Homo sapiens: one gene and its partner. The protein of the gene in region 2 interacts with the protein of the main gene of each other region in a pairwise test. Each region holds a gene or a part of one and is shown on either strand. Other genes may lie near its edges.

What was found. Proteins that work in one complex are often made in the same cells at the same time.
Region 1: the proteins of ERGIC3 (region 2) and TMEM128 interact in binary tests that used the Homo sapiens proteins (3 or more experiments, as listed by UniProt).

What each region holds. Positions count from the first base shown.
Region 1 is NC_000004.12:4,234,999-4,238,332, forward strand, and holds the end of TMEM128 (transmembrane protein 128), read right to left. Parts: intron 2,938-3,334; coding exon 2,838-2,937; 3' UTR 2,829-2,837; intron 2,080-2,828; exon of another isoform or gene 1,259-2,079; 3' UTR 544-1,258; downstream 1-543.
Region 2 is NC_000020.11:35,552,078-35,555,257, reverse strand, and holds part of ERGIC3 (endoplasmic reticulum-Golgi intermediate compartment protein 3), read right to left. Parts: intron 887-3,180; coding exon of another isoform or gene 872-886; intron 215-871; coding exon 183-214; intron 1-182. UniProt on the Homo sapiens protein: Possible role in transport between endoplasmic reticulum and Golgi. Positively regulates trafficking of the secretory proteins SERPINA1/alpha1-antitrypsin and HP/haptoglobin.

The DNA.
Region 1 (3,334 bases), on a different chromosome or scaffold from region 2:
AACATTATTACTATTACGCACAACCCTACAAGACAGATATCGTTCCCACTTCACAGCTGAAAAAAGATTACAGTCTGACTACCCCTTCTCTGAAATGCTTGGGACCAGAAGTGTTTTGGATTTTGGAATATTTGCATTATATTCCAAAACCCAAAATGCTCCAATGAGCATTTCCTTTGAGTGTCACGTCAGTCATCAAAAAGTTTCAGATTTTGAAATTAGGGATACTAAACCTGTACTACTGAAGGTCTTGCAGCTAGTAAATGGCAGGGTATGATCTGAACCAGACACAAGTGGTGATTAAGTCAGGTCATTATTAGAAGTCACCTTACAGAGAAAACAATCAACATGAGATACATTCTGTCACAATGCTTATGCTGCTTAGATTTAATGTAGACATATTGGCATTTGAAAGTGCAAATACTGTCTTTATAAGGTCTTTGAAGAACAGAGTTAGCCCTTGTTATTGCTACAGTTAATTCAAAGTGCTAATAGCTAAAAACCAGAAGTTATTCCAAAGTTCGCATGAACAAAACTCACAAGAAAGTTATAAAAATATTTTATTTAAATGATACAGAAAAAAATGTATACTTAAAAGTGATTAAAACTTCACATTAGGAAATGCTAAAAACCCAGTAATGTACATAATGATAAAATCTAAAGTGATGAGAAAACATAAAATATTTTCATTTGGTCCTGTCACCTAACAAAACTATCATAAATATGAGATTATAGTAATTACTAAAGCTGGTTAAAGGCACATGACAACATAATTCCTTTATACACATCCAGTCATTTTATACAAGGAACTGCTATCCCTTAAATGGAAGAGTGAACTACTTGTTTAAAATATTAACAGTGCACTATGTACCTACAATGAAACCACTTTCTCCAAAGACTCAAACAGATTAACATTGCAAAATAGTACTTCTGTATCACTGACTTCTGAAAATTTTAATAATTTATGCATATGCAAGTGAAATATAATTTATTCTGGTTTCAACAACAGTTATACAAAGTCACAATTTTCCCCAGGAAACCATTCACTTCATAGCTGCAAAAACACACTGTAGCTTTTCTGTTAGGGTCTGCCATGCTTTCAGCTAGCTGGATGTTTAACCATTCACTTCAAATTTACATGTCCAGCCAGGCACGGTGGCGTGGGCCTGTAGTCCCAACTACTTCGAAGGCTGAGGCAGGAGGATCACTTGATCCCAGGAGTTCAAAGACAGCCTGGGCAACATAGAAGACCCTGTCTCTTAAAAAAAAAAAAAAAAAAAAGTGTATGTCCTTAAATCTGAAAGAAAACCAGCATTTATGTACCAAGTAAAACATTGTATCTCAAGCTATTGCATTTAACACTAAAAAGCATAGTTCACTCTGTAATCTACAACATTGTCTGAGTCTCCATTACCAATTATAACTTCATGTCAGAGTAAGAGCTCCCAAACATCTGTAAAAACTCAAAATTCAAGAGTCAAAGAAGGGGCTGAGAACACGAGAAGGGGAGATGGGTGACAGGGTCAGGTGAGGAAGTGTTCTGAGATGTGTAGGATTCCTCCGGGCCCAAAGCCGCTTGTGGCACCACAGGTGTACAGGAATGAAGGGCCTCCTGTGAGGGTTCCCAGTGGTCCCAAGACACAGCAAGGTGCCTGAAGGAGGCTGGAGACATTGGCGTGGGCATGGAGGTGCTAGCAACTATTTTCAGACTGCTAACAATGAGAGTATGTCCATTTCTTCTTTACACAGTTACCACTGACCTTCCTTTAAAATCCCACAGGGAGAACATGCTGTTTTTAGCAGAAATGTCAGTTTTCATTAACTCCTTGAAAATTTAGCGTATTAACTTTTATTTCCATGAGCTTCAGTTTCCACACCTGTCAACTGCTGTATAAAGCAGGTTTCCTGCAAGTTCTGATGTAAGTGACCTGACAGGAGGCACTATCTTTGTCCTTCTCACCATGCCCCTAAGCATCTGGAGTGAGTATTCTCAATATACACTTATTTAATAACAGAGTTATCCGACACTCAGAAAACAGCCTCCACTGTGTAAGGCAGCAGATCTCAGGATGGGGTGATCTGTAGGGAGGCAGAAATTCTATAAATAACACCAAACGAAAGCTGATTGTGTCATCCAACACATTTTTATGAGGAAGTCAGAATAATTAGAAGATGGCAGAATTTTTTTTCCCAATTAGGTAAAATTGTTCATTCTTCCTGTATTCCCATTTCTTAAGAATGATCCAGCCAACAGTCACTGAATATAAGCTGACACAAATTAATATAATTTCAACATAAAATGGTCTAATGTGTGAATTCAACTATATTGGAAGGTACAAATCCTGTCTTTATGAGGTCTTTGAAAGGCAGGGTACCTTCTCTAAAAAGTAGTCACTTAGAACCAACTTTTACAAAAGAAAGAGTCTCAGCCCCCAACCCCCGCCAGCCTGGGCAACATAAGGAGACTCTGTTTCTACAAAAAAATTTTTAAAAATTAGCCAAGCATGGTAGCACATGCTTATAATACCAGCTACTTGGGAAACTGAGGTGGGAGGATTGCTTGAGCCCCCAAGTGGTCAAGGCTGCAGTGAGCTGTGATCATGCCACCGTACTCCAGCCTGGACAACAGAGTGAGAAGCTGTCTCAAAACAAAAAGGAGTCTATCTCAGAGTTCAATGAATGGATAATTCTAGTGTGGACAACTCTGGTGTAAACATGACTGAAAATAATTCACAAATAGTCTGTTACAGCTCCATCCACTGAAAATTGTCATAAAAGACATTTTTCAAACGAGTTCATTTTTAGAAAAACCACTCCAGATATCTTACCTTCGGAAATCATCCAAGGAGTGTGATAAACATGACAACCCCCATAAACTGGGTAAACAACAACAATGGAGTGAAAAACGACCACACATGCCATAAAGCAATGTTGAAGCTGAAAAGAACAAGACATAAACAGTTGACAACTCCAATATGCATCAATATATTTTATTCTAGAATCCAGATTTAAAGTATTCAATGTAGAAAAGTTCATCCAGTCAGCAACTTTCTCTATGTATCATATTTCTCAAGTATGTGACTTAGCCAATGCTGGAAAGGAAAACTCTAGATATACTTAAACAAGTATCACAATTTCTTCAAGAAGGCCCTGGAACTGGAACCACTAAAGGTCTCCTAATAGGGGTTGACATGGCTTAATAGAAACTGAAGTCTCTTAGTTTCTGACTTCAACAATAATTTAAATGGCTACAGCCCATTTTTATGACATCACACACTAAACTATCATGGTAAAAAAGACCAAAATATTGTCTCTTAAAAACAGAATGAAAACA
Region 2 (3,180 bases):
GCCTGCTCAGAGTTCAGTTCAAAAGTCACTCTCGCTTAACCCTCAGGCTGGATCCCCATTCAGAACGTGGTGTATTTTTCCATATGCACTACCCCATCCCAGGATGTTCCTACAAGGAAATGAAGGCAGCAACCAAGCCTCCCACCCCCACCTGCCCTCCATGGTTTCCATCTGGTACGTACGTTGTCAAGGCCAAAGCTCTGCAAGTCATGGACTAGGAGAGAAGGGAGAAGGCAAGGGAGAAGGCGTCATTAGTAGGAGCAGCACTGGCCTCCTCCTTCCTCCCCCTGGACTGCAAACCACCTGTCTTCTCTGCCCCTCATTCCTTCTCCAGCCTGGCACCTCCTGGTCCTGCTTAAGGACAGCCAGAAAGGGCAAGCCTTGGGCCTGTGTGAGAGTTCACGCCCTCCTCAGGAGTCTTTAGAACAGACCCTGGTTCCTCCCTGACGTCCACAGGGAACTCTATGCCTTGACTACCACCATGGCCCTGCCTGCATCTCCGGAAACAAAACCCACCGACTATGGGCTCTCACTAACTAGAGCTGATGGCAAATCACTGAACCTCAAAGTGAGGTGGGATCTGAGAATGCCATCCACACTTTCCCTGCCTCCACCCTCAAAGCTCCCCAGAAGAAATCCCATGGGGACCCTGTACCAACTGTTCCAGAACAATTTATTCCTGCCCTCTAGCCTCAATCCCTCCTGCTGCAAGGAACCATACTTCAAAGATACATCCCAGACCTTTTACAGTCACCCAGCAGCCAGGTCAGAGGAGACCCAATCACAGCCCCATCCAACCTCCCCGCCATTCTAGTAGGGCAGGCTGCCCCAGAAGTAGGGGTTTGGCCTCCATGGGGGCAGGGCCACTTACTCTCCACAGCATGTACTGCAGCATGGGGGAGGGAGGAGAGAGAAGAAAGATTCAGAGCTTCACAATGAGAACTATGAGAGCAAGATATGTTGCAGGAGGGAAGACTGGAACATTCAGCCTCAGCAACACAGTCTGGCCCCAGCTAACAAGCCTCCTTCTGGGCCCCTCCTCGAGAGTGAACTAATCTGGCCAGAGAGGAGCAAAATAGTGGCCTAGAAGGACAAGAGGCCTAGAGCTCAAAGAGCCAAGTTCCTGACTGTGTGGCCTTGGGCAAATCAGTTGCCCTTTCTGGGCCTCAGTGTTCTCCTTTGCAAAGGGCTGTCCTAAGGATCACGTGGGATCTAAGATGGAAAAATACTTGTAAACTTTACACTGTAAGAGATTATTACCCACCCCAGCCCCAATCAACAAGGATGTTAGAAACTCACTCCCAGGCCTCAATTCAGCCAGATCTCTGGCCTTGGGCAACTGTACCTTTGCATTTATACATCCTTCCAAATACAGAGCACCCCCGGCCCGGGGATCCACAAGTCTAACAGTCCCAGGCCAAGAGGCTGCCACTCTGGCTGTGTGTCTACTGAGTGCCCGCCAGACCTTGTGCCAACAGCTTGACACTGATCATCTTCCTGCCCTCCCAGCAAGACCCTTTTCTCCCAGCTTCCTCCAGAGTGAAGAGGGGGTCCCAGAGCTCTGCAGGGTCCTCCAGCCCCCACACTGGCCCCTCCCCAACACAGCCCCACCCCCACAGATTGCCCTGAAGACCAGCAGAGCTACCCTCCAGGGGGCCCTTTCTTCCTGTTCACTTCAACCATTTTGAGAGGCCATCTTCATACCCTGGGCTCTGTCACTGTGCAGCTCTGTCCATCCTTTACTGTGACACCAACTCCCACCTTCCCCAACCCTGCCTTCAACCCCTGGGTTCCTCTTCACTTTCTTGCTTCAGCCTGGCTCTTCCTTTCAGGCACTAACTCCCTGGCATCCCCTCAACGTGCGACTATCTTCTCTCCATACACAACCTCTTCCCTGGCCTAAAGAGAAGTCTTTCTTGCTCCTTACTGCCACTTCCAGATCACTTTCCCTTTATCTGCCTTAAAAATGCACAATGGCTCACATCTGTAATCCCAACATTTTGGGGGGCCAAGCGGGAGGATCACTTGAGCCCAGGAGCCTGGGCAACATGGCAAGACCCTGTCTCTGCAAAAAAAAAAAAAAAAATTAGCCAGGCATGGTGGCATGTGCCTGTGGTCTCAGCTCCTTGAGAGGCTGAGGTGGGAGGATCTCGAGTCCAGGAGGTCAAGGCTGCAGTGAGCCAAGATTGTGCCATGGCACTCCAGCCTCAAAAAAAAAAAAAAAAAAAAAAAAAAAATCCCCAGCTTTGAAGCTCAGGGCAAAGCAGCCCTGCTTGTTTCAGTCACCTAGATATCGATATGGAACCTCCAGAACAGTTTTCCCATGCCATTTTTCAACAGCTTGGGCAACTGCCTGTCACTCTCTCCTGTACTACCTCTGTCACACGTTCTAGTGATTTCCATATCCACGTAGATGATCCTTCCAGTACCCGGGCCTCCCAGTTCCTGGACATCCTTTCCTCCCTGATCTTGTGCTCTGCCTACCCAAGCCACTTGCTCTGTTGGCCATTCCCTAAACTTTGTCATTAACAAAGCCCCTTCTGTGACTTCAATTTCAAGCAACTCATGCTCCACCAGCTTTCTAATTTCCTCCAGTTCCCCAATTCCAATAACTTGTTGACACTACACTCAGGACTTGTAGTCCCTTTTTCCTCCTGCCCCCTCACTGGCTTCTCCACATCCTGTCTTTCCTCCTTTCCTAGCTCATATGCTGTGGTCCAGAATCAAGATGAGTTCTTTACATATTTGACTCCCTCACCTTTGCAGGCACCTGGCAACACCAAACCCCATGCAATTGCAATGTTCTGTTGACTGAGTCCATTCCCACACAGACAACCATGCTGACCGCTCTCTTTGCATTCACAGCCGCGGACTCCAGGGAGGCCCTAGGGCTGCATCAATCCTACTCAATCTCCCCAGTCCACGCACTCTTCCACCCCCAAGTGACCAGTCACATCTTTTCTTCTTTCAAATCTCCAACACCTCCTTCCCTCTCTCCTCATTCTCAACTGAGGACCTTCCTTCCTACAACACGGAGAAGATGGGAAGACTCAGAAGAGACTCTCCATGTACTTCTGCCACACCAGCTACCACCCTACCTGTACCTACAGAGCCTGCCCTTCCTCCTGGTGCTAAGTTTGGACTTTCCACATATGTAAGGCACTAGATTCTGTCTTCTTT